3 separate regions of the Homo sapiens genome follow, and regions 1 and 2 are each linked to region 3. Evidence: fine-mapped expression QTL. A gene starts in region 3. Each other region holds a variant in brackets. All regions are shown on one strand. Distances are from middle to middle.

Region 1 (8,184 bases), 69 kb before region 3:
TGTCTTAAAATGTCACCTGAAGCTTGATTGTGAAAGGGAAAAATATTCTAGAGCTTGCAGAAACTTGGACTGTGTTCATGTGGATAAATTGCTGCTCTGCTGTACTGCATTAATAAGTGCAACTTAAATCATTAGCTCAGTGTTTTTTTACTTACACAGTACAGTGATGATGACGAAATCAATGGAGTGACACAAGGTGATAGACTTCGGGCCTTGAAAAGCAGAAGACAATCCAAAACAAACGCTATTCCTCTCACGTGAGTCTGGGTTCCTTTGTTGTGGTTGATGTTTCTTCATATGTGTGTGGGGTCCTTGGTGAGGGTTTTTCCTGTACATTTTTCTCCATAGTTGCAAGCCCATGATGCCACTTTGAAATGCTTGCCTATGTTATTTAAAACCTAGGGGTGCTGGCCTTGGAAGCTCTCAGCTGTCCCTTGTTTACCTTGGTCCTCATGAGCCTTTATGGGTGGGAAGGCGACATCAGGGATACTTTTTCTCCATGAATAATCAGCATGGGGCATCCTCAGGAGCGCGACAGCAGATGTAAAGCCCAGGATGCCAGACTTGTCCATAGTTACTAAAGTGGTGTATTTCTTTACATTTGCCATGTTGCAGATCATTTGTTTTGATAAGCATGACATGATGGCTTAATGACATTATGTTGTTTTGGGGCAACAATGAACTGGTCTAAACTATATTTTGGGTTTTTCGTTTGTTTCTTTGGGGAATGATTTTCTAATTATAGAGGAAGATTTAGCCTGAGAATAGGAAATGTTGTAGTACTGAGTGTATGTATGTCTATGTGTACATTCTTGTGAATGTGTGTTAGTTGGGATTCAACCTGATGGAGCATCCAAGATTGTTAGAAAAATATGCAGAAGCAAAGTACATGACCATGGTATTTTTTGTAGGCTGTTCTTTAGTAAATGCTCCCACTTGTTGCCATTGGATTTCTTCCTTCTAGTTACTTCCTTTTTCATTGTGGGACACCAGATTTCCAGCCTTCTTTTTTGCGGGGAGGGAGTGTGATGGACATAGATCATTTATTCAGTAAGCATCTTGTAATATGGTAAGGAAGTATGATATAATATACCATTTATATTGGCAGAGAACAGGTTTTCTTTTCAATTAAAAGTAATTCCTCACTAGTGTCTCGTCATAAAAATTCTGAAGTAGAATTACACCTAAGGCATGTGTCATTATGGGTTGCTCCCCTGGGAGGTTCTTCTTAAAAGACCCAAGGCAAAGAATTGAGTTTTACAATATGCAGTGTTATGTGAATGAATGTAGGGCATCCATTTTGATTATAGGCATTTATTAAGCATTTCTTTTGCAACTTAGTGGTACTTTAGTCAACTATACTTTTTTAAAAATGGTGCCTTTTGGCCAGGTGTGGTGGCTCATGCCTGTAATCCCAGCACTTTGGGAGGCCAAGGTGGGCAGATCACCTGAGGTCAGGAGTTCAAGACCAGCCTGGCCAATATGGTGAAACCCCGTCTCTACAAAAATACAAAAACTAGCCGGGCATGATGGTGGGAGCTGTAGGCATTATAGGATCCCAGCTACTCGGGAGGGTGAGGCAGGAGGATCGCTTGAACCCGGGAGGCAGAGATTGCATTGAGCCGAGATCGTGCCATTGCACTCCAGCCTGGGTGACAGAGTGAGACTCTATCTCAAAAAACAAACAAACAAACAAAAATAGTGCCTTTGTATAATTTACTTAACTCCAAATGCCATTTTGTTTTTAATTTCCTTATTAAAAGTCTTCACCTAAGGCCTTAATGGTTTTTCTTTGGAAGTATTATGGTGGCTCCAGGTAATCATCCAGATACTAATTCTGGATGTGGTGGAGGAGGCAGGCAGCACCCTCGAGCAGTGCTTCTCAGACTTCAGTGTGCAGGAGGCACCCGGGCGCTTGTTGAAATATGGGTTATGATTGGTGGGGTGGGGGTGGGGCCCAAGAGTTCACATTTCTATCCGAGGCTGCTGGTCCAGGGACCACACATTGAATTGCAAGCCCTAGGAAACTGATGCTTTTGTGGGTTGATTTTAGCTGTGTCTGGGATTTTTTGTTTTGTTTTTCAGAATCAGCATCATCAGTTTATGTTTTAATATTTTGTTGCCTGCTGTTCAAAAGTCAAGTTGAGAGTCAGGGGATACAAATCCTGCTTAGTCAAAAGTTTTTGTTAAATAGGAAATTTCCTTTAGTCACCCTCTGAATCTGCTACTCTCATTAACGTGAGTTCAAATCTAGCTGGGCGTGGCTGTGCGCACCTGTAGACCAGGCTATGCGGGAGGCTGAGGCAACAGGACTACTTGAGCCCAGGAGTCTGAGGCTGCAGTGAGCCATGATCACTGCATCCAGCCTGGGTGACAGAGTGAGACCCTGTCTAAATAAATAAGTAAAATCAAGTACAATGGTAAAAGTTAAAAAACAAAGAGGTAGCTCAGGATTCCTTTTGGTAATATCCCAAAAACAATATATATAAATAGCCCCACATAACACAAATAACAAAGTTTTAGGCCACACTTTTAAAGAAGAAAGCGAAATGCTAGTTTTTCTAAGCTCTGAGTTATGTGTATAGACCCGAGGGGATTTTTGATGAGTCTCAGCAAATCTCCTTCCTCCTCCCTTACAACATTTTGCTTATCCCCGTCTCTGCTTTTTCAAACCCTCTCTGCTATTATTTGCAGTTTTTTGGCCCTAGAAAAGATCAATTGAAGATTTTCTTTCTTTCCCTCTTGTGTCTATGTTGTTATTTTAGGAATAGAAGTCCCTGAGGGACTGTTCTCAACAGTTGCTTGGGTTGAAAAATACAAAATCAATTTCTTCATCCAAGTTTGACTCATTGATTTCTGTGAGCAAGTTATTTTGCTTTAGCATTGGCACTTAGCCTTATGAAAATACAGTACATGCAAGAAGGAAAGTTAGTGAGAAATACACAAGTACTAGTGATTCTTAGGAGAAGGTTATAGTACATAAAATATTATTCCAATGATTGGTTTCTCTTTTTTTTTTTTTTTTTTTTTTTAAGACAGAGTCTTGCTCTGTTGGCCGGGCTGGAGTGCAATGGTGTGCCCTCGGCTCACTGCAACCTCTGCCTCCCAGGTTCAAGTGATTCTGCTGCCTGAGCCTCCGGAGTATCTGGGATTATGCACCACCACACCCAGCTAATTTTTTGTATTTTTAGTAGAGACAAGGTTTCACCATGTTGGCCAGGCTGGTCTCGAAATCCTGACCTCAAGTGGTACACCCACCTCAGCCTCCCAAAGTGCTAGGATTACAGGCATGAACCACCGGCGCCTGGCCGGTTTCTCTTTTATAAATGGTCAGTTTTGGGGGAGAGTTTAAGTTTTTAGTGATTATAAAATGGCCATTTGCTCAGCCTGTCTGATCCTGACTACAATGATGACAGGAAACCATGTGGCACCATGACATTGAGCTGATCTTCAGGACGTGATGACAAGTATATTGTCTGTGCTAAAATGGATTTGGTAGATTGCATAACTTGAGCCATGAGGCCTGTCGTTCTGCATACTGATGGTTTTGGTAGGTTTGGAGATGAGTATATCTGTTAGCAATGGAAAATAATTCTTTTTTTATTTTTATTTTTTATTTTTATTTTTGAGACAGAGTATCGCCCTGTCGCCCAGGCTGGAGTAAAGTGGTGCGATCTCGGCTCACTGCAAGCTCCGCCTCCTGGGATCATGCCATTCTCCTGCCTCAGCCTCCCAAGTAGCTGGGAATACAGGCGCCCACCACCACGCCCGGCTAAATTTTTGTATTTTTAGTAGAGACAGGGTTTCACTGTGTTAGCCAGGATGGTCTCGATCTCCTGACCTCGTGATCTGCCCACCTTGGCCTCCCAAAGTGCTGGGATTACAGGTGTGAGCCACTGCACCCGGCCGGAAAATAATTCTTAAGCCATGAGGTTTACTAGAGGAAAAAGTAACCATCTATAATGCTGACACTTGGACATTCGGGCCATTCTGCCTTTAAGGAACTGAAGGTGAAGGCTGGGATCGGTAGAGAGTTCTCTAGGGCTCCCAGACCATTTATTCATTCCATTTAAATATTCACCCCTGTGATCTTTATGTATATTAGTAGCTTGTTTTTTTTGTGGGAAGATTAAATAAGATGGTGTGGGTATAACTTGTGGGGTAAGGTTAGGCTGTATTTCGAGTTCACCCTTTAGTCTAATCCCTTTCCACAATATAGGATGCCTGGCATGTAATTTCTTTTTCCCCGAGACAGAGTCTTGCTTTGTCACCCAGGCTGGGGTACAGTGGCGTAATCTTGGCTCACTGCAACCTCCACCTTATGGGTTCAAGTGATTCTCCTGCCTCAGCCTCCTGAGTAGCTGGGAATACAGGCACACGCCACCACGCCTCGCTAATTTTTGTATTTTTAGTAGAGATGGGGTTTCACCGTGTTGGCCAGGCTGGTCTCAAACTCCTGACCTCGTGATCTGCCCGCCTCAGCCTCCTAAAGTGCTGGGATTACAGGCGTGAGCCACTGCGCCTGGCCTGACATGTAATTTTTAATGATGACAGTGATGAGGTCAACAATAAAAATGACATGATAAGCCAAATCAGCCATTTCCAAATTGATTAGCAGTACTC[T/C]GCACACAGCAGATGCTCAGTAGAGGCTCTAATATTTGGTCACAGATGTATCCAGGTGACCATTTGGAAGTATAGTCATTGGAAAGAGCTTCTGCCCTTCCAAATGGGAGGAGGTTTCCTTCCTCACTGCTAGAACCCAGACCAATGGATTAAGAAACACCAAGCTGAGGCTGGACACAGTGGCTCATGCCTGTAATCCCAGTGCTTTGGGAGTTCAAGGCAGCAGGATCACTTGAGCCCAGGAGTTCGAGACCAGCCTGGCCAACATAGTGAGATTCTGTCTCTACAAAAAAAATAAAAAAAAAAAACTGGGCATGGTGGCATGAACAGGCAGTCTCAGCTGCTACTCAGGAGGCTGATGTGGGAGGATTGCTTGTGCCTAGGAGTTGGAGGTTACAGTGAACTATGATAACGCCACTGCACTCCAGCCTGGGCAACAGAGCAAGACCCCTGTTTCTTTCTTTCTTTCTTCTTCTTTTTTTTTTTTTTTTTTTTTGAGACGGAGTCTTGCTCTGTCGCCCAGGCTGGAGTGCAGTGGCGCAATCTTGGCTCACTGCAAGCTCCACCTCCCAGGTTCATGCCATTCTCCTGCCTCAGCCTCCCGAGTAGCGTGGTGCCTGCCACCACGCCCGGCTAATTTTTTGTATTTTTAGTAGAGACGGGGTTTCACCATGTTAGCCAGGATGGTCTTGATCTCCTGACCTCGTGATCCGCCCGCCTCAGCCTCCCAAAGTGCTGGGATTACAGGTGTGAGCCACCACGCCCGGCCTTTATTTTTTTTTATTTTTTTTATTTTTTGAGACAGAGTCTCGCTCTGTCGGCCAGGCTAGAGTGCAGTGGCATGATCTCGGCTCACTGCAACCTCCGCCTCCCGAGCTCAAGCAATTCTCCTGCCCCAACTTCCCGAGTAGCTGGGATTACAGGCATATGCCACCACGTCTGGCTAATTTTTGTATTTTTTTAGTAGAGACGGGGTTTCACCATGTTGGCCAGGCTGGTCTCGAACTCCTGACCTCAGGTGATCCACCTGCCTCAGCCTCCCAAAGTGCTGGGATTACAGGCATGAGCCACTGCGCCCGGCCGACCCCTGTTTCTTAAAAATAAAAAAGAGGCAGGGTGAGGTCAGGAGTTCAAGACCAGCCTAACCAACATGGAGAAACCCCATCTGTACTAAAAATGCAAAATTAGCTGGGCATGGTGGCACATGCCTGTAATCCCAGTTGCTTGGGAGGCTGAGGCAGAATTGCTTGAACCCGGGAGGGGGAGGTTGCAGTGAGCCGAGATCACACCACTGCACTCCAGCCTGGGCGACAAGAGTGAAACTCCATCTCAAAAAAAATTAAATAAATAAATAATAAAATAGAGCTCAGGTGCGATGGCTCACGCCTATAATCCCAGCATTTTGGGATGCTGAGGCAGGCGGATCACCTGAGATCAGGAGTTTGAGACCAGCCTGGCCAACGTGGTGAAACCCTGTATTAAAAATACAGTACTTAGCCGGGCGTGGTGATGTGCGCCTCTAATCCCAACTACTCAGGAGGCTGCAGTGGGAGAATTGTTTGAACCTGGGAAGCGGAGGTTGCAGTGAGCCAAAATCACGCCATTGCACTCCGGGCTGGGTGACAGAGCAAGACTCCATCTCAAAAAATTATAATAATTAAAAAATAAAAAATAAGAAAGAAACACCAAGCTGAAAGCCAACTAGTATGAGGAAAATGAGTGTGGAAAACAACTAAGAAAAGTCTATAGTATGCATACCTAAGTGAAATTTTGCTCATTTTGTGTTGCCCTGGGTTAAATGTGAACCATATTATAAAAATGTGCCATTCCCTTAGCTTCCTGGATGGCTCAGGAGTTAGTAACTCCCTTGAAGTGAGATCAGTTCTGCTGTATTACGTTCATTTTTAGTTGTGCCTCCTGTGATTTTGTTAACTAGTCTGGGGTTTTGTGTTTTTTTGTTTGTTTGTTTTTGGTTATCTGGTTTTGCCTCCTTTGCCCCTTGTGGTTTGCTTTAGTTTTCTGTGTGTGCACATCTTCTGCTTTTTGAAGAACCTCAATCATTTATCTGTGACTGATTTCAGTATCATAAAGTTAAATTAACATGGGGTAGTTATCTCACTAGTGACTGAGTCCCAAAGTATGAAACCTGTTTAAACACAGCATTTTTTTATTCAACATAAAATGGCAAAACTCCATCCTTGTTGACCACCCCTTTGTATCCCTGTTGCTGTTGGCTGGGCTTTTAGGGTGTCTAAAATTCACATATGGCTTGATTGATTGATGATTGCGTAATTTATTTTGGCTTCCCAATTTGAACATCTGTTCTTTCCCCTTCACCCCTTTCCAGATGTCCCCTAGCTGTGCTGACCTCTGCACTGTGTAGTGTTGTCATCTGGTGGATTGTTTGTGACTACATTCTTCCCATCCTGCTATTCTGTCTCGATGGTTTCAGAACACAGTAGCCATCAGGACCCCCTGACAGATAGCTGCTGTAAGTGTCCCGTTCTGTTTCTCTGCCGTTGCTTACTTCTGGTGCCTAGTGTGGTTCCCACAATGCATGTTTTTCTCCTTGTCAGCTCCTAGCTTTGTTGGTTTGCCTATTTTCAAAGGTTCTTTTTCTGAATCTTTTCAATTAATGGGATGGTGGTGGGGAGGGAAGGTGGGCTTCACTGTTCCTCTCATAGAAAGGATATTGAAAGTAACATACGTTGTTTTAAAGTTATGCTTATCCTTAACATATTTCAAAATAGCAGTTGATAAAGACACTGAAACAGTTTTTCTTCACTGAAACAGTTTTTCTTCCCTATCAAAAGTAGTTAGCTTAGGATAATTGGGGTGGTTTTATTTTCGTCAGTTGGCTATACAATTTCCCTCTAGTTTTCTGTATCTTGAGTATGTCCTTCCCAGTCTAGCAAAGAAGCATTTTTCCCACTGATCTACTTTCATTAAATATGTGATTTTGTAGCCTCGAAATCTGCCATTGTACAGCAGCTCTCTCATAAGTCTTCTCTCTTTAGTGTGCAGAATTTCCTGCTCTGTCTCATTTTCCTCCTCCCCTTTAGGGAATACAGTAAGTACAGTGTGTAGCACTTGATGCTAAATGAAAGTAGGAGGTCGGAGCTGAGGTCGCCTGTTTAAATTGGTGCATTTCCATATGATGGTCATTGTTCCTGCTTTTCTCCTTGCCCAGACATAGCCAGAATGCCTTTAATAGGCTAATAGCAGCAAATCTGTATTCTCTTGAGATCTTTCATCTTTGAAATGAAGACCTTAACAGCGAAGAGGCTTTATTTCTGCAGAAGAATGTACAAGAGGCCCACTTGTGGAACAGCATGTTGAAGACCCCCAGAAGGCGGGTGTGTCCGTGTCACGGGGTCCACCGCCACCCTTCTGTGTCTGAGCTGCGTTCTTCCTTCTCTGAAGCTTTTTCCTTAACTCATATTTTAAGAATTTCTTCTCTTGTCTCCTCTTGGACTTGGAAGTTATGAAAGAATGCAAAAGTTCCTTGCAAGATCTCTTCCAAAGAAAAATTCCATTGCAACCAACTCTGGTACTTTGTGG
Region 2 (8,184 bases), 120 kb after region 3:
TCTTGTAGTTCCAGCTACTCAGGAGGGTGAGGCAGGAGGATTGCTTGAGCTCAGGAGTTTGAGGCTGCAGTGAGCTATGATGGCACCACTACACTCCAGCCTGGGCAACAGAGGGAGAGCCTGTCTCTAAAAAAAGTATATATATAAAAAAGTGTGTATTTATATATATAAAAGTATATATGTATATGTGTGTGTGTATATATGTAAATGTCTCCTGCCAAATTATTCAATCTTGTAGAATTTCTGTCCTTTAAAAGACATAAATAATGTCTTTTTTTTTTTTTTTTGAGATGGAGTCTCACTCTGTTTGCCCAGGCTAGAATGCAGTGACGCGATTTCATCTCACTGCAACCTCCGCCTCCTGGGTTCAAGCGATTCTCCTGCCTCAGCCTCCTGAGTAGCTGAGATTATAGGTTCCAGCCACCAAGCCCAGCTAATTGTTGTATTTTTAGTAGAGACGGGGTTTCACCATGTTGTCCAGGCTGGCACTCTGTGAGTTCTTAGGAGTGAGTTCTTCCTAGAGATGGTGAGGATGGGGTTCCTTGGAATTCTTTGAAATCTGGAATTATAAGAGAATGATGTGCTTGGGTACCATTGTGGATGGTGGAAAGAATGCAAAAGTGGCCTGTGAATATTTGAACGTTTGTTGAGTTTCTATATTTGTTGGGGCAGGGAACGGTAATCAGTGACAAGGTATAAACTAGGTCATTTGAGTTCTGTTTGTGACTGCCACAATGTTGGGTAAGGCAGTTACTTTTTGTGCTGTTTTTAGAACAGGAAGAAGAAGGCTTTGAGCAGAGGCTCTGGTCCAGGAGTTTCTACTTGGGCACCTCCACCCTGGGGGCCCTAGAAGCAGAACACTCAGCTGGCCTCTGTTGTCTGAATAAATGTGCATCAGATGTATGTGCTGTTATATTTCAAATGTACACAGATAATATCATGACTTCAAAATACAGAGCACGCTGGGCGTGGTGGCTCACACCTGTAATCCCAGCACTTTGGGAGGCTGAGGTGGGAAGACCACCTGAGCCCAGAAGATGGAGGCTGGGCTCATGTGAGCCCAGTGAGTTGTGATTGTGCCACTGTACTCCAGCCTGAGCAACAGAGTGAGACCCTATCTAAAAAATATAGAATGGTAAAAAAGGTTACTAAGAATTCAGCAATACTTTTAAATATCTTTGTATTTTATTAATCTACAGATAGTAAAATCAAAGCTAGTCATGTGGAGGTTGATATTTTCAGTAATAAAAGTGGTGAGGTTTCCCTTGCACTGAGTACTGAGTTAACGAAGGTTCTTTTAGTTCAAAGTCTTGGTTTTGGCCAAAGAACTATGCAAGTTTTTTTTGCATATAGAAATAGATTCTTTTAAAAAATGTAATATACTGCTACTTTGAGCCTGGTGGTTCTATATTTGCCCTCTCTGGGGACATCTAGTGGGTATATTAAGAAGTGCAAGCTGGGAGTGGTGACTAATTCCTATAGTCCCAGCACTTTGGGAGGCCAGAGAGGGAGGATTGCTTGAGCCCCAGAGTTCCAGATCAGCCTGGGCAAGATAGCAAGACTCTGTATCTAGAAAAAATTTAAAAATTAGCCAAGTTTAGTGATGTGTACCTGTAGTCCCAGCTTCTTGAGAGGCTGAGGTGGGAGGATTGCTTGAGCCTGGGAGGTGGAGGCTGCAGTGAACCATGATCACACCACTGCGCTCCAGCCTGGGCGAAAGAGTGAGACCCCATCTTTAAAAAAAAAAAAAAGAAAAAGAAAAAGAAAAAAGAAGTGCAGCCCTTCTATCTAGCCGCCATCTGTTGCTAAGGAGGATGGCTGCTCACTGAGGCTCACTCCAGAATGTTAGGGAGGGATTCTCCTCCCTTGGCTCAGCCCAGCTGGTGAGTGATGTCCTAGTCACCCACACTCATGATGGATGGGTGCTGGGATCTTAGATCCATGATGTCTTCTGATTCTGAATGCAGGCTGAGGTGGTTTCACTAAGATGGAGCTGGGTGTGACGACACACATCTGTAGTCCCAGCTACTTGGAAGACAGGCGGGAGGATCACTTGAACCCAGGCATTCATGTCCCGCCTGGGTAATATAGCCAGATCTTGTCAAGAGATGAGGTTCCCCCCAACCCTTTTTTAAGAAAAGAAAAATGGAGGATGGAGAAAATGTTGCATGATTGGAACCCTGGAGTTGGAATTTTAAAGCAAAAGTGGAAATAAAGAACATCCATGCTGTCCTTGGTTTAAGGCTGTGCTGGTGCATAGGCGGCCTGCAGGAAGCTCCTCTCTGCCCCTGCGTTGGGCTGGGCCCTGTGCTGTGCTCCCGCTGCTGTGCAGCTCTCTCCTCTGATCTGGGTCTGAGTGGCTCCGGGGCAGGTGCTGTGGATGGGATGGTCCCCTCTGACAGCCAGGGCCTGGCAGAGCAGGCACTCAGTGGCATCAGTTTGAGTTTTTTAATTTTTTCATTGTATGGATAAATAGGATTATTTATAGCTCCTGGGAATCTAAATTAATGTTAGATTTATTAAAATTATAACAATTTGAGAAACTTGGATTTTCTTTTTTTTTTTTTTTTGAGACAGAGTCTCGCTCTGTTGCCCAGGCTAAAGTGCAGTGGTGCGATCCCGGCTCACTGCAACCTCCGCCTCTCAGGCTCAAGCAATTCTCCTGCCTCAGCGCCTCCGAGTAGCTGGGATTACAGGCGCATGCCACCATGCCTGGCTAATTTTTTTTGTATTTTTATTAGAGACAGGGTTTCACCATGTTGGCCAGGATGGTCTCAATCTCCTGACCTTGTGATCTGCCTGCCTTGGCCTCCCAAACTGCTGGGATTACAGGCGTGAGCCACCACACCTGGCCGAAACTTAGATTTTTTCTTAAGCCTTAAAGTTCAACTTACAAATATTATTGCCTTATTTAGAAGGCTAACAATTTTTCTATAAAAGAACATTTACTTTCATTATTTGATAAATGGCTTATTAACTCAAGTTTAGCTGATTAAAATCCCCTAAACAATGTACTGTAAATCAGTTCCATTTACAACTTAGTGAATTAAAAGAATTTAAGCATTTTCAACTGTTTTTACAAATGGGAGCTGCCTACTTTTTCTTCAGCAATTCCAACCCCTGAGGCCAATTAACAAAGCTAGTAGATTGCTTTCTGTACTTAAGCAACTCTTTGAAATAGAATAAACCAAATTTAGAAATGGGGTAAATCAGCTTCTTAAAAACATTCAAATCCTGATGCAGACTTCGACGCTCTTCTTTCAAATTAAAATTGCAAGTCTAATATCAATTATATATTTCAAATTAGAACCACAGAGTTTCTTTAACTTTTCAAATTGTTTTAATTACAATGCACACAGTATTGCAAAGATTACAAAATTTAAGTTTGAAGTTAAGTTTATTCTTCAACTTGTAAAGCTTGATATTCTGATTTTTTTCCCTCTACCACCTCTAGTAATAAACACACTCAGGCCAACAGAGGTTATCGTGTTGAAGGTTTGTGACTGTGATCTTCACCAGAGATTTGAGCCTAGGACCAAGACCGAGTGTTGAATTCTAGCAGGATTCTAGAATTAAATAAATTCTGTGCTTACCCAAGTGCAGGTGCACTAACCCCTTTGCTAGAGTTGAGTTCACTTCTCTCTGTCAATGGTGAATCCAAGTTCCTGCCTTTAACCTGGGACTAATTAATTAATTAATTAATTGAAATGGAGTTTCGCCCTGTCACCCAGGCTGGAGTGCAGTGGTATGATCTCAGCTCCGCCTCCTGGGTTCAAGCAATTCTCCTGCTTCATCCTCCCGAGTAGCTGGGATTACAGGCATGTGCCGCCACGCCCGGCTAATTTTTGTATTTTTAGTAGAGACAGGGTTTCACCATGTTGGCCATGCTGGTCTCGAACTCCTGACTTCAGGTGATTCACCCACCTCTGCCTCCTAAAGTGCTGGGATTATGGGCATGAGCCACCGTGCCGAACCTGACCTGGGATTTAGCTTTTCAAATCTCACACATCTTGTACTCTCCTTGTACCATCCATGTTTCTTTCTCAGCCAGTTTGTAATCCCTTTCAACATTCCATCATCTGATCTGAGTTGCAGCTTAGGTGAGGTTGCAGCTAATTTCCATCACTGCTTGACTGGAATTAGCTCGCTTCTTTACCTGACTGGATTTGGCATTCTTTACCTGTGTATGTGTTTTCTTGTCTGGCGCTCATCCACAAGGCTGTAGTCATTTTATTGGCAAGTAAGTATCAATACCTACGGTCATGTTAAGTGCCTGAGTTAACTTTGGTAACAGTTACAGGAGCATTATCCACAAGTGGAATCTATTTCAATCTCCTCCGTCCAAGGCAGCAATCGCTCAGCTGATTTTCTCTTCTGACACCAGAGGTCCTCTGCTCTGGCTACAGATCAGAATCACCTGAGGATCTTTCATATCGTGCA[C/G]GGTCGGGGCCCCACCTCAAACCATGTGAAGCAGAACCTCTGCCAGGCATCGTTCGTTGTGTGTTGGAAGTGCAGCAGGCGGGCCAGGCGCGGTGGCTCACGCCTGTAATCCTAGCACTTTGGGAGGCCAAGGCGGGTGGATTGCCTGAGCTCAGGAGTTCAAGACCAGCCTGGGCAACATGGTGAAACCCCATCTCTACTAAAATACAAAAAAAAGTAGCTGGGTATGGCGGCATGAGCCTGTAGTCCCAGCTACTTGGAAGGCTGAGGCAGGAGAATTGCTGGAACCTAGGAGGTGGAGGTTGCAGTGAGCCGAGATTGCACCACTGCACTGCAGCCTGGGTGACAGAGCGAGACTCCGTCCCCACCAAAAAAAAAAAAAAAAAGTGCAGCAGGCGATTCTGAGGCACAGAGGATTAAAAACTCCAATTCTTAACTTCATTTAACATGCTGATAAATGAGAGATTTCAGGTCATTAAACCTTGTTCTCCTTACTCCCATGTTGTGGAAACATTCATTGGAAATGTACAGAGAAAATGAGAAGGATACCTTAAGTAGAAGGTTTAGCTAATTCACAGCTGGACCATTTTCCTGTCATAAGACCAATAGCAACATATCTTAAGATGTGGGTTACAAAACCTTTATGATATGTGTTTCTTTTTTCTTCGCTTAAAGTGCTTGTGTGGGGGTCACTGCTGGCCTTAACCTATTTGTCATTACCCAGCGTAGTGAGGCACACACTCCAGTGTCTGCTTCCTTGTCACAGGTTTCTGCTGATGTACTCCACGGTTCTGTGCAGCTATTACAATTCAGCCCTGACGACAGCAGTGGTTGGAGCCATCAAGGTGAGTGGATGGAAACTTGGAAGGGAACAACTGAGTCAAGGAATGGAAATCCAAATATTCCATGGGAGGCCGGGTTTGATTTTGTTGTTGGTGGTGGTGTAAGAACGAGGGCTGTGACCTTTTCAGCTCGGCCTGTGTGATCCCATCTTACTTCTTTTTTTTTTTGAGACAGAGTCTCGTTCTGTTGTCCAGGCTGGAGTTCAGTGACACGATCTTGGTTCACTGCAACCTCCACCTCCCTGGTTCGAGCGGTTCTCCTGCCTCAGCCTCCCGAGCAGCTGGGATTACAGGCGCCTGCCACCACACCCGGCTAATTTTTTATATTTTTGGTAGAGACCAGGTTTCACCATGTTGGCCAGGCTGGTCTTGAACTCCTGACCTCGTGATCCACCCACCTCGGCCTCCCAAAGTGCTGGGATTACAGGCGTGAGCCACCGAGCCCGGCCCCGTCTTACTTCTTCTAATCTATTGCATAGAATAGAGGGACAGATTGCTAATTTATAAAGGAGAGATGAATTATAACTTTTAAGTTGGGGGTGGCTCAGAGGGGGTGGGTCTGGGAAAATGAAGTAAAAAGCTAAAAAGAATAAAATCAGTCCAGGTATCAATGATTAGCAAGATACCTTGTGATCCATAATTTGGTTTTCTGGGAGAACCTGCCCACTGAGAAGTGGAGCCCTTGTGGAGGTGTATGCTGTGTGGTGAGATCATGAGCTGGTGGGTTGGTGTGTGGGTGTTTGCTTGTGTGGATGCATCTGAATACACACACATGCACATGAATGAATAGGGGGAGAGGTGTTCTGGATTCTATTCCATAATTGCTTCATTTTTCTATTCACATGAAGTCCTAGAGTGTGTGAAAACACTGCCTGCTTCAAGAGTTTACCTGTCCCCTGGGTGCCCAGAGGTCTCCTAGAATGCACTGGGCAGAGCACGGCCTGGAATTTGTTGACTGTCTCCACTCTGCTCAAGTTTACGATCAAGATAATTAACTCACTACTTGGCCCTGTTGTGTCCACAGATTGCAGTGTAGTGTGGGAGCCCAAGGTTGAAAAAAAAAAAAAAAAAGAAAAACCAGGCACAGTGGCTTATGCCTGTAATCCCAGCACTTCGAGAGGCCAAGGCAGGCGGATCACCTGAGGTCAGGAATTAGAGACCAGCCTGGCCAGTATGGCGAAACACCATCTCTACTAAAAGTACAAAAATGAGCCAGGCGTGGTGGTGAGTGCCCTGTAGTCCCAGCTACTTGGGAGGCTGGACTGGAGAATCTCTTGAACCTGGGAGGCAAAGGTTGCAGTGAGCTGAGATTGTGCCACTGCACTCCAGCCTGGGCAACAGAGTGAGACTCTGTCTCAAAAAAAAAAAAAAAAAAACCCCAGAAAACCTCACTACCCAATGATAGTAAAGAGATAGGAACCTGGCAAGCTGATGACAGCCCCACTCTTCCTCTTTTGCCTGCATGCCAACTGGATCAAGAGAGAGAATAATGCAATTTTCTGTTGTTATCATACCATAATTTACTGCATTTATTTAGTAAGCCCCATATGTAATGGCTTATTTATTTATTTTTCTGAGGCAGGGTCTTGCTCTGTTGCCCAGGCTGGAGTACAGTGGCATGTAGCTCACTGCAGCCTTGACTTCCTGGGCTCAAGCAATCCTCCCACTTCAGTCCGTGTGGAGTAGCTGGGATTACAGGCATGTGCCACCATGCCCGGCTACTTTTAAAAAATTTTTTGTAGAGATGGGATCTCACTATGTTGCCCAGGCTGGTCTTAAACTCCTGGGCTCAAGTGATCCTTTGACTTTGGCCTCCTAAAGTATTGGGATTACAGGCGTGAGCCATCATTCCTGGCCTGTAATGGTTTTTATTTTGTTCAACCACCTGTGAATATCCCTATGTACAAGTCTCTATGCAAAGTAACTAAAATGTCTAGTTTCAGGTTTTACTATTTATATTTTCCCCTAAACAGTTTACTTTTAAAATGACGAATCCTCTCTCTTTTTCTGCAGAATGTATCCGTTGCCTACATTGGGATATTAATCGGTGGAGACTACATTTTCTCTTTGTTAAACTTTGTAGGGTTAAATATTTGGTGAGTGGGAATTTTTAATGGACTCGCTTTGGGAAGACAAGAACCTTAAACACTCTGATTAATATGTAATAAGCAAAAGAGCCTGGAGAAGTCTTTCACGTTAAGCCAGGAGGCGTTTTGACATTCTAATTTCTAAGATAATTTTACTTCATCACTGGGTTCATCCTCATGCAGATCCATGGGGACACGTGTGATGGCAGTTTGCGGGGCTGGGATCGGAATTTAACTCACCTGTCTTCCTCACAGCAGGCCCCTGCGTTCTCTGCCCTCCTCCTATAAAGTGGAGGGTGTTAACCTTTGTGCCCACTAGGCTCGGCATGCAGGGGGTGTGGACTAAGCCAGCTTTGAAAGGCATTTGGGGTCTCAGCAGTGGGATACTATTTAAGGCTAAGGGTATGTAGTTTATTCAGTAGAAACCAAGTGCTTATTTTCTCTCTGAGGTTCTGCATTAGATTTGATGACTCTTTTTCTGCCTCCAAAGGCTTGTAAATAAGGGGAAATTCTCATCAAGCAATCCACAAACTTGAGGAGAAACACAGATATTGGAATAATTCCCTCCGCATGAAGCAGGTGTATTGATAAAAACGCCAGCAACTGCTGCTGGAGCCCCTGTGAAATTCCCAGTCATTTATTTTCACTTTTTTTTCTCCTTTCAGCATGGCAGGGGGCTTGAGATATTCCTTTTTAACACTGAGCAGCCAGTTAAAACCTAAACCTGTGGGTGAAGAAAACATCTGTTTGGATTTGAAGAGCTAAAGAGTCTGCAGCAGGATTGGAGACTGACTTGTGACTGCGGGCTGGGGGGG
Region 3 (8,184 bases):
CACATGCATTCATCATCATCTAAACCAAGCCCAGGTAAAGAAACAGAATACAATAAAATTTACAGTAAGATTTTCCACAAAATAAAATTGACCTTTGTTTCAAAGAACATAATTCTGAAAGGCTAGGAAAAGCAAAACTGAAACGGCCTCTCATGACTTTAAGAATGAACTTATTGAGCAAGGCTCACCCAAGGGTTTATATACATATTGCTAGACAGATAGTCAGACATTAAAAACCTACATTTTTGGCCAGGCATCATGGCTCACGCCTGTAATCCCAGCACTTTGGGAGGCTGAGGCGGGCGGATCACCTGAGGTCAGGAGTTCAAGACCAGCCTGGACAACATGGTGAAACCCCATCTCTATTAAAAATATAAAAAATTAGGCCAGGCACAGTAGCTCACACCTGTAATCCCAGCACTTTGGGAGGCCAAGGCAAGCAGATCATGAGGTCAAGAGATCGAGACCATCCTGGCCAACATGAACATAGTGAACCCATGCCTCTACTAAAAAATATACAAAAATTAGCTGGGCATGGTGGCGCATGCCTGTAGTCCCAGCTACCCAGGAGGCTGAGGCAGGAGAATCGCTTGAACCGGGGAGGCAGAGGTTGCAGTGAGTCAAGATCCCGCCACTGCACTCTGTCTCAAAAAAAAAAAAAAAAAAAAAATTAGCCGGGCATGGTGGCAGATGCCTGTAATGCCAGCTACTAAGGAGGCTGAGGCAGGAGAATCGCTTGAACCCAGGAGGTAGAGGTTGCAGTGAACCGAGATCATGCCACTGCACTCCAGCCTGTCTCAAAAAAAAAGACTCTGTCTCAAAAAAAAAAAAAAAAAAAAAAAAAAACCCTTTTCCATAGGAAAAGCTTGTGACTTCCACATTCTTTCAGGATTAACATTTCTATGATATGTCAAACATGTTTTATTTTTGTCTACACTAAGCATTCACTTACAACATTCTAACTAGATAAAAAATTTTGAATGTTAGAAAAGTACAGTGCTTCTTATCAACTAGGGTTACAAAACCTTGAGAGAATAGCTCCTTGACACCCATTATAGATAAATTTAGTACAGTAACTACATAAATGGAAATTAATGAGCTGTTTGCTCCTGAAATAACACATACTTGAAAAAGAACTTGAATGATAAAATTTCCGTTCTAACTACAAAATCAACTAAATACCTTTAGTTGATTTCAAAAGCCAGATCACTTAGACCTAACAACTGACAGAAAAAAAAAGTTACGAGTGTACTACATGACAACATCAAGTGCAGGAAACAGGTTGCAACCCAGTTTATATCATTTAAGTTTAGAAAGAAAAGAAATAGCTCTGTGCATTTATGTATATAAATGCAAAGTGTTAGTAGGAAAAATAAGAGGATTTTCACTTAACCTCATACATTTTGGAATTGCTTAAAATTCTTAACACAAAAATGCATGACAATTTTAAAAAGGCTAAAAATCAATGTATTAACAGCACTAACTCGTCTCACGTTTTTCTGAAGCACAGAATTTTTTTTTTTTTTTTTTTGTGACGGAGTCTCGCTCTTTCTCCCAGACTGGAGTACAGTGGCTCGATCTCGGCTCACTGCAAGCTCCGCCTCCTGGGTTCACGCCATTCTCCTGCCTCAGCCTCCCGAGTAGCTGGACCTACAGGTGCCCGCCACCACGCCCGACTAATTTTTTGTATTTGTAATAGAGACGGGATTTCACCGTGTTAGCCAGGATGGTCTCGATCTCCTAACCTCGTGATCCGCCCGCCTCGGACTCCCAAACTGCTGGGATTACAGGCGTGAGCCACCACACCCGGCATTTTCATTTGTTAAAAAATAAAGGGTGAAGAAAAGCTTAGCCTTCCTCAATTCCTTTATTATATTGATGTAAATAAGTTTAAGAGAAAAAGATAAAAAACAGGATATAAAATGCACAATGTATCTCCAGTCTCACTGTTTAGATAGGCTCAGAAATTTACTGGCCTACCAAAGTGTCGTGAGATAGTAAATAACATTTTTTTAAAAATCATTTTCAACATCTTTATTGTAGTGACTTGATTCTCAAGTGATGACTCTGGATTTAGCTTTTCACAAATAAAGGTAAACATTACCCAGCTGCACATCAAAGCCCTAATACTTAAACCTGAGACGTTTCCTCAGGGCTGCGATGCACAATTTTTATCAAGCAAGGAACAAACCAATAAAGCCAAGTTGAACACACTGGCAAACGTCGGCAGGAATGGTCAACCTACACATCTTAATCCTAACACTCTGCAAACCTTGGGACCGCTGCCTCATTTCAAGAAAACAGGAAACACAGGTGGAGTGTTGCTGGCTCTGCCACTGACGCAGTTCGGTGAGAGAATGAACTCTGAAGCACCCTCCCCGTCCACAGGCAGCAGGACACCACGCTGCGCACCGGTTTTTCTTGCTAAATAGGGAGTGGGGAACTCCGAATATTCTTGCTGGAAAGGTTAAAAACGCTTTTCTTAAAGCAGCCTTGAGCTATTTATAAGTTGCACATCCCATCAACACCACACGAAGTACTGAAATACGATGCCGGCTGCCTCCTGGAAGCTACCGGACGGAGAAGGGGCGAAGGCGCCAGGCCGGACCGCGCCGGGGACCCCCGCCCGGGCCCCGACGTCACAGGCCGCCCCGCGGTCGCCCAGGCCTCCGGCATCACAGAGGCCCCCAGCCCCGGGACCAGGCGCCCTCCTCCTCCCCACCGCGCTCTCGGGTGGCTCCGACCTCAATCTTGCAGAGGCTGGGCTGGAAGATGAAGGTCCCCGCCAGGTCTGGATGTGGGAGCCCCGGGGTAGCGACCTCAGCCGTTCGCCCCCACACGCCACCCAGACAACCTCCCTCAACTTCGTCCAACTTGCCGTAGAGCCTCAGTGCCAGGGTTCGAGGGCCCTATCCCACCCCAAGCCAGCGTTTCCCCCGGAGCCCCGCACGAGGCTGGCGAGAGCTGGAAGGGGTGTGACCCCTGCCCCTCTCCTCCTACCTTCGGCGGCCACCAGGACCCTCAACTCTCCCTACTGTTCCCGGGCCCCTCCTCCTGAAACCGGCCCCCGGGACCCCAGTCTCACAGCGGGCCGAGCCGTGGTCCGCTAACCCCGCTGTCCCCGCGTACCCGGCGCCTGCAGGCCGCCCCCGGGGCTATCGGGCCGCTGAGCGACGGGCGCCGGGAGGCTCTTGCGCTCCTTCTGCGACTCCCTCCGGCCGCCCGCGCCGGCTCTGTGGCCCGAGGCCCCGGCTGGGCTCCTGCCGCCGCGGGGACCGGCCCCGGCCGCCGCCGCCGCCTCGTCGCGCCTCTTGCGCTGCAGCTGCTGCTGGCGCCGGCGCTCGGCCTCGCGCAGGATGTCGAACGGGTCCGACTCGTCGTCCAGCAGCTGATGGAAGCGGTTGGCCACCACGCAGCCGAAACTCTCCTGCATCGCGGCGCCAGCGGCAGCCACGGGACTCCCCAGAGCGCCCTTCATGCCGCCGCGACCACTGCGGGCCCGGGAGGGCAGCCCACGCGAGCGCGTCTCAGCGAAGCCGGCGGCCAGGACCCATGCCGCCCGCTCCGCCGCCACCGCCCTCCGGGCCCTACCCTGTCCGGCCCCTACCGGCGCCCGCCCCCGCGGCGCCGCCGCCGTCCGCCCCGCTGCGCCAGACAGCCAGTCAGCGCGCGCGGGTGCGCCCCCTTTCCGACACGGCGCGCCTGGAGACCCAATCACCGACCGGCTGCTGTCACGTCACGCGACCTCTGGGCCCCGCCCCGTTCGCTCAGCAGGGAGGGGCGGGGCCCAGGGGCGGAGCTACTGGCTGGTCCAGGCGGCGCCGACGAAGCGGTGGGGTCTCGGCTGTGTGTGCTTTCTCCCGGGACTGCGACCGTATTTGCTATGGGCCACTCTGCTTTGAAGCTTATGTATACATTTAGCCGTGCAACAGCTACATATTGCGCACTTACCGTGTGCCAGGCATTATGTTGTAGGAAATACTAGCTCCGTGTTGTCACAGATCTGAGTCTGTAGATGGAGAAAAAGTGCCCTGAAGGACAGGCGCAGAGCTCTCTACGGGCTGCAGCAAAGGGATCTGACCTAATTGGGAAATGACAGTTAAGCCGAGGGAGAGGGGTGACAAGGGGTTGGAGGAGGAACAGCAAGTGCAGCAGTCTTGAGGTGGGATGTGCACAGCCTATTCAAGCTCAAAGTGGTCTCTATTCTAAGAGCAGTGGGAAGCAAGTTTTGAGCATGAGCAGATTTGGGTTTGAAAAGGCCACCCTACCTGCACTGTGAACTAATAGTTTGGAGGGAAATACAAATGGATGCTGGGAAGCCAAACATGATTGTTGCAAAGCTCCAGGGAAGAGTTGATAGTGACTGGGATTAGGATGGTGGCGGTGGAGGCGAAGAGAGTAGATGGATTCAAAGACTTGGTGATGCGCTAGAGGTGGTGATGAGGGAGAAGAAGATACGGTGACTCTTATTTTCCTGGCTCCAGCATCTGAATGATAGTATTAGTTACCACTGGAAGACACTACTTTAACGGGAATCATTAATTCAGTCTGGGACACGTTGAGGTTTGGATATTTGTTTTCTTTTGAGATATTCAGTTGAGGCCTGGAGCTTAGAGAACGCCGGACTGGACTTCCTCCAGGAAATCTTTGCATAGGCAGCGGTGGAGACACGCTTGGCTGCCTATCCTACAGCCGTTCTTTCCCTCTTACATTTTTCCAGAGCCTGTATTTTGTTCAGGCATCATATTCCCCAGGGGAAGAGGGCCCCTTCCAGCCTCAAACTTGATTAATCATACATTATTCATTGCACCTGATTCCAATTCCTTGCCAGTAATTGGCTTAGGAATAGGCTGTGGGGCAAATCGGGCAGAACAGATCTGAGAAGTATTCTGGGAAAGTTTTTCTTGCACCTAACAAGGGATTGAGAAGGGATCTCCCCCCCTTCTGTTCCCTGGTCTTTGTTCCATGAGAAGACATGATGCCTCGGGTGGCTGTTCCTTAGCGTGGCCATGAGGATGGCAGAGCAGGATAGAGAAAGGCTAGATCCTTGATGAGGTTGAGCTGCCGACTGGACCCACTTGGGAACCTCCCTACTTGAGGCTTATGATGTAAGGTGACAGATGTGATTGCGCTTAGTTGTGTTTGCTTGTTTCATCCGAAAGCATCCAGTTAGAGCATCTTGCCAGGTGCTCTGTGACCAGCTTTTACTTTCCTTAATAGCAAAGGAATTCCTAATCCTAAATGCTGTAAAGTCTGTGTGTTACTCACTTATTGAATTTTGTGTTATTCCCAAGGAGGACAGGGATGATGCCTGTCTTATTCACTGCAGTATGTATTCCCAGTGCTTGGCGTTCTAAGCAGCTATAGAGTAGGTTTTCAGTAAATATTTGTTGAATGATTGAAGAATTTAAGATATTTGGTCATCTCCTTTTGAGTGAGCAAAGATTAATGCCTACGCTTTCTACCCAAAAGAATTAAAAGCAAGTGTTCAAACCAAAACTTGTACATGAGTATTCATAGCAGCACTATTCACAATAGCCAAAAGACAGAAACAAATAATATACATGTCACCCGATGAATGGATAAATAAAATGTGGTACAAAAAATATTATTTGGTCAAAAAGGAAGTATTGATACTTGTTACAACAGGGATGAAACTTGAAAACATTGTGCTAAGTGAAAGACGGACAAAAAGGGCCACACGTTGTATGATTCCATTTATATGAAATGTCCAGAATCTATAGAGACAGAAAGCAGATTGGTGGTCACCAGGTGTGGGGGTTGGGAGTGTTGGAAAGTAACTGCTTAATGGGCATGGGAGTTTCCTGTGGGGTGATGAAATGTTCTGGAACGAGATAGTGGAGATGGTTGCACAAAATTGTAAATTTAGTAAATGTCACTGAGTTGTACACTTTAAAATTGTAAAAATAGTAAATTTTGTGTAAAATTTAGTAAAAATAGTAAATTTTTTGTAAAAATAGTAAATTTATCTTAATGAACCAGAGTAAAAATAGTAAATTTATCTCAATGAACCAGAATCACTACATGCAACAGAGACCACACTTTGAGAAGCACTGCTTCAAGCTAAAGTTATCTTTGGTATCTTTAAACTGCTCATCACCAAACCACAACACCAAGGAATCATGATCATGTGAGAGAAGGGCCTGTCGTCTTCCCACTGGGCATCTGGAGTTAGCCTGCTCCCCTGTTTTCTTCTTATCTTCCTTACAGCATAACCAGCCACTGTAAGTTCTTAAAGCATGCCCTGTGAGCACTGCCGCCTCATTTCCAAGTCACAAATGCCCCAAATGGTTGTAAGAGAACCAACTCTCGTTGCTTCAGGATTCAGAACATCTTTAGAACTGAAATAGAGATGAGTAATCCTTACCTGGTATTAGATGGCCACAAGTTTCTTTTTTTTCTTTTTTTTCTTTGTGTGTGTGTGTGTGTGTGTGTGTGTGTGTGTGTGTGTGTGTGTGTTTGGCAGAGACAGGGTTTCACCACGTTGGTCAGGCTGCTCTCAAACTCAAGTGATCTGTCCACCTCAGCCTCCCAGAGTGCTGGGATTACAGGTGTGAGCCACCGTGCCCGGCCATGGCCATGAGTTTCTTACGGGGCTATTGACTACTGCACAATTTACTGAGAGTAAGGTTAAGCACCCTCATATTTTTTACTGATTGTTTTTTCTTCTAGGAGATTGCATCCTTAAATGCATTCCTAAAATACAACTCTACCACATTAGCATAAGTTATTCACACATTGTGTTTAATGTGGTCAGTTTAATAGACTGATCTTTTTCATAATCTGATATATGAAAACAGCTTTTAGTAATCATAATACCAAACAATAACACACATCTTATAGCATGGAAAAACAAAGCACATCAAAAATGCTGTGAAGTGTGGATGCTGAATAATACTACCAGCCCTTCCATGATTATTATATATATTCCAGTGGTTATTTATTACCACCAATGGAAATGCAGTGAAACTTAACTGTATACAAGATGTAAATTACCTTGAATTACTTAATAGAGGAGTCCCATTAGGAATAATAAAATACACTAACATCTTCCAGATTGACTTGGAATTCACAGAACCATTAATTGAGAGTTTAGACACATGTAGCTTCATTACTTTCAATTACATGCAGGGAGCAACACCTGGGTGAGAGCCAAGGAGGAGAGGCCAGGTCAGGCTGGCGAGGATGTGAGTTCTTGTTAATTACCAAAGCACTGCATTCAATCTGCTCTGTTTTGCCGCTGAATTCCTGCTCTCTCTCTCCTTACCTTTTTCTTGTCCCTAAAGTTAGGATGATTATAACCTGTCTTGCATTCTTCATATAGTTGAATGGAAGACAAGACCAAAGAAGTCAATTGAAAAAGGTAAAAATAAATCTCACTATTTTATAATTGTTTCTACTTGCATAATATATGCAAAAACAAAAGTATTTTTCCTAACTCTAAGAGGATCTGATCTTTTATGCCAGTTGAGTCAATTATGACAGGATCAATGAAGTTACATAATAGTTCCTGGTTTCACTATTCTAAGGGTGATAAGTGAGTTCAAATTCAGTTTCCCACAACAAATGAATAAAGCAAGTAGCAAGTACATAGGCTCAAAGTCAGGAGTTGTAGAACCATAAACCATTAGTTAACAATCAGGATGCACCAGAAGAACTTCTAGCAAGCGGAAATCCATTCATGATGATCAGATACACAATGTTTAAATCATGAAATAATTTCCCCAACCTGCTAATAATATTTGTATTCTTGGTGTCATTGAGGGTCTTTCCAACTTGCCTTCTTATGACAAAAGGTTACTGGATAGCTTAGTGCTTTGTATACTCAAAGCAATTGTGCCAATAGAAATTTTTATTCTCTCCCATTCCTACTATTAAAAGTTTGATCTCTAGTTGTAACTTTAATCAAGGCCAAATAAATAATTGGGGATTTAGAACTTTTTATTTCCTCATTTATTCTAGATCCTTCAAGTTGTGAGCAACAGAAAACCCATCTGGAATAAGTAAAACCAAGGACTTTGTTGGCTCAATAAAAAAAAAAAAAATCTACCAGGAACAGTGATTCGCTCCAGAAATTCCAGACCAGCCTGGAACTCCTGAGCTCAGGCAATTTGCTTGCCTCAGCTTCCCAAAGAGTTGGGATTACAGCCATGATCCACCATG

Evidence for each region. PIP is the estimated chance that this variant, and not a neighbour inherited with it, causes the effect.
Region 1: its variant is fine-mapped to the expression of HABP4 in whole blood (INTERVAL, PIP 0.99).
Region 2: its variant is fine-mapped to the expression of HABP4 in whole blood (INTERVAL, PIP above 0.99).

What each region holds. Positions count from the first base shown.
Region 1 is chr9:96,514,579-96,522,762 of GRCh38, reverse strand. CDC14B (cell division cycle 14B) reads left to right here. Exons shown (of 14, transcript NM_033331.4): 12 at 160-257. Among named protein-coding and RNA genes, the nearest start is that of HABP4, 69 kb to the right of the region's middle. RefSeq lists an enhancer at 1-360. The variant T/C (reference allele first, on the strand shown) is at 4,624.
Region 2 is chr9:96,321,192-96,329,375 of GRCh38, reverse strand. SLC35D2 (solute carrier family 35 member D2) reads left to right here. Exons shown (of 12, transcript NM_007001.3): 10 at 5,207-5,285; 11 at 7,296-7,378; 12 at 8,035-8,184. The coding sequence ends at 8,134. SLC35D2-HSD17B3 (SLC35D2-HSD17B3 readthrough) reads left to right here. Exons shown (of 26, transcript NR_182427.1): 10 at 5,207-5,285; 11 at 7,296-7,378; 12 at 8,035-8,184. Among named protein-coding and RNA genes, the nearest start is that of HSD17B3, 23 kb to the right of the region's middle. The variant C/G (reference allele first, on the strand shown) is at 4,441.
Region 3 is chr9:96,445,574-96,453,757 of GRCh38, reverse strand. It overlaps HABP4 (hyaluronan binding protein 4), which reads right to left and starts at 3,589. Exons shown (of 8, transcript NM_014282.4): 1 at 3,130-3,589. The coding sequence starts at 3,478. RefSeq lists silencers at 3,072-3,121, 3,202-3,261, 3,272-3,811 and an enhancer at 4,092-4,171.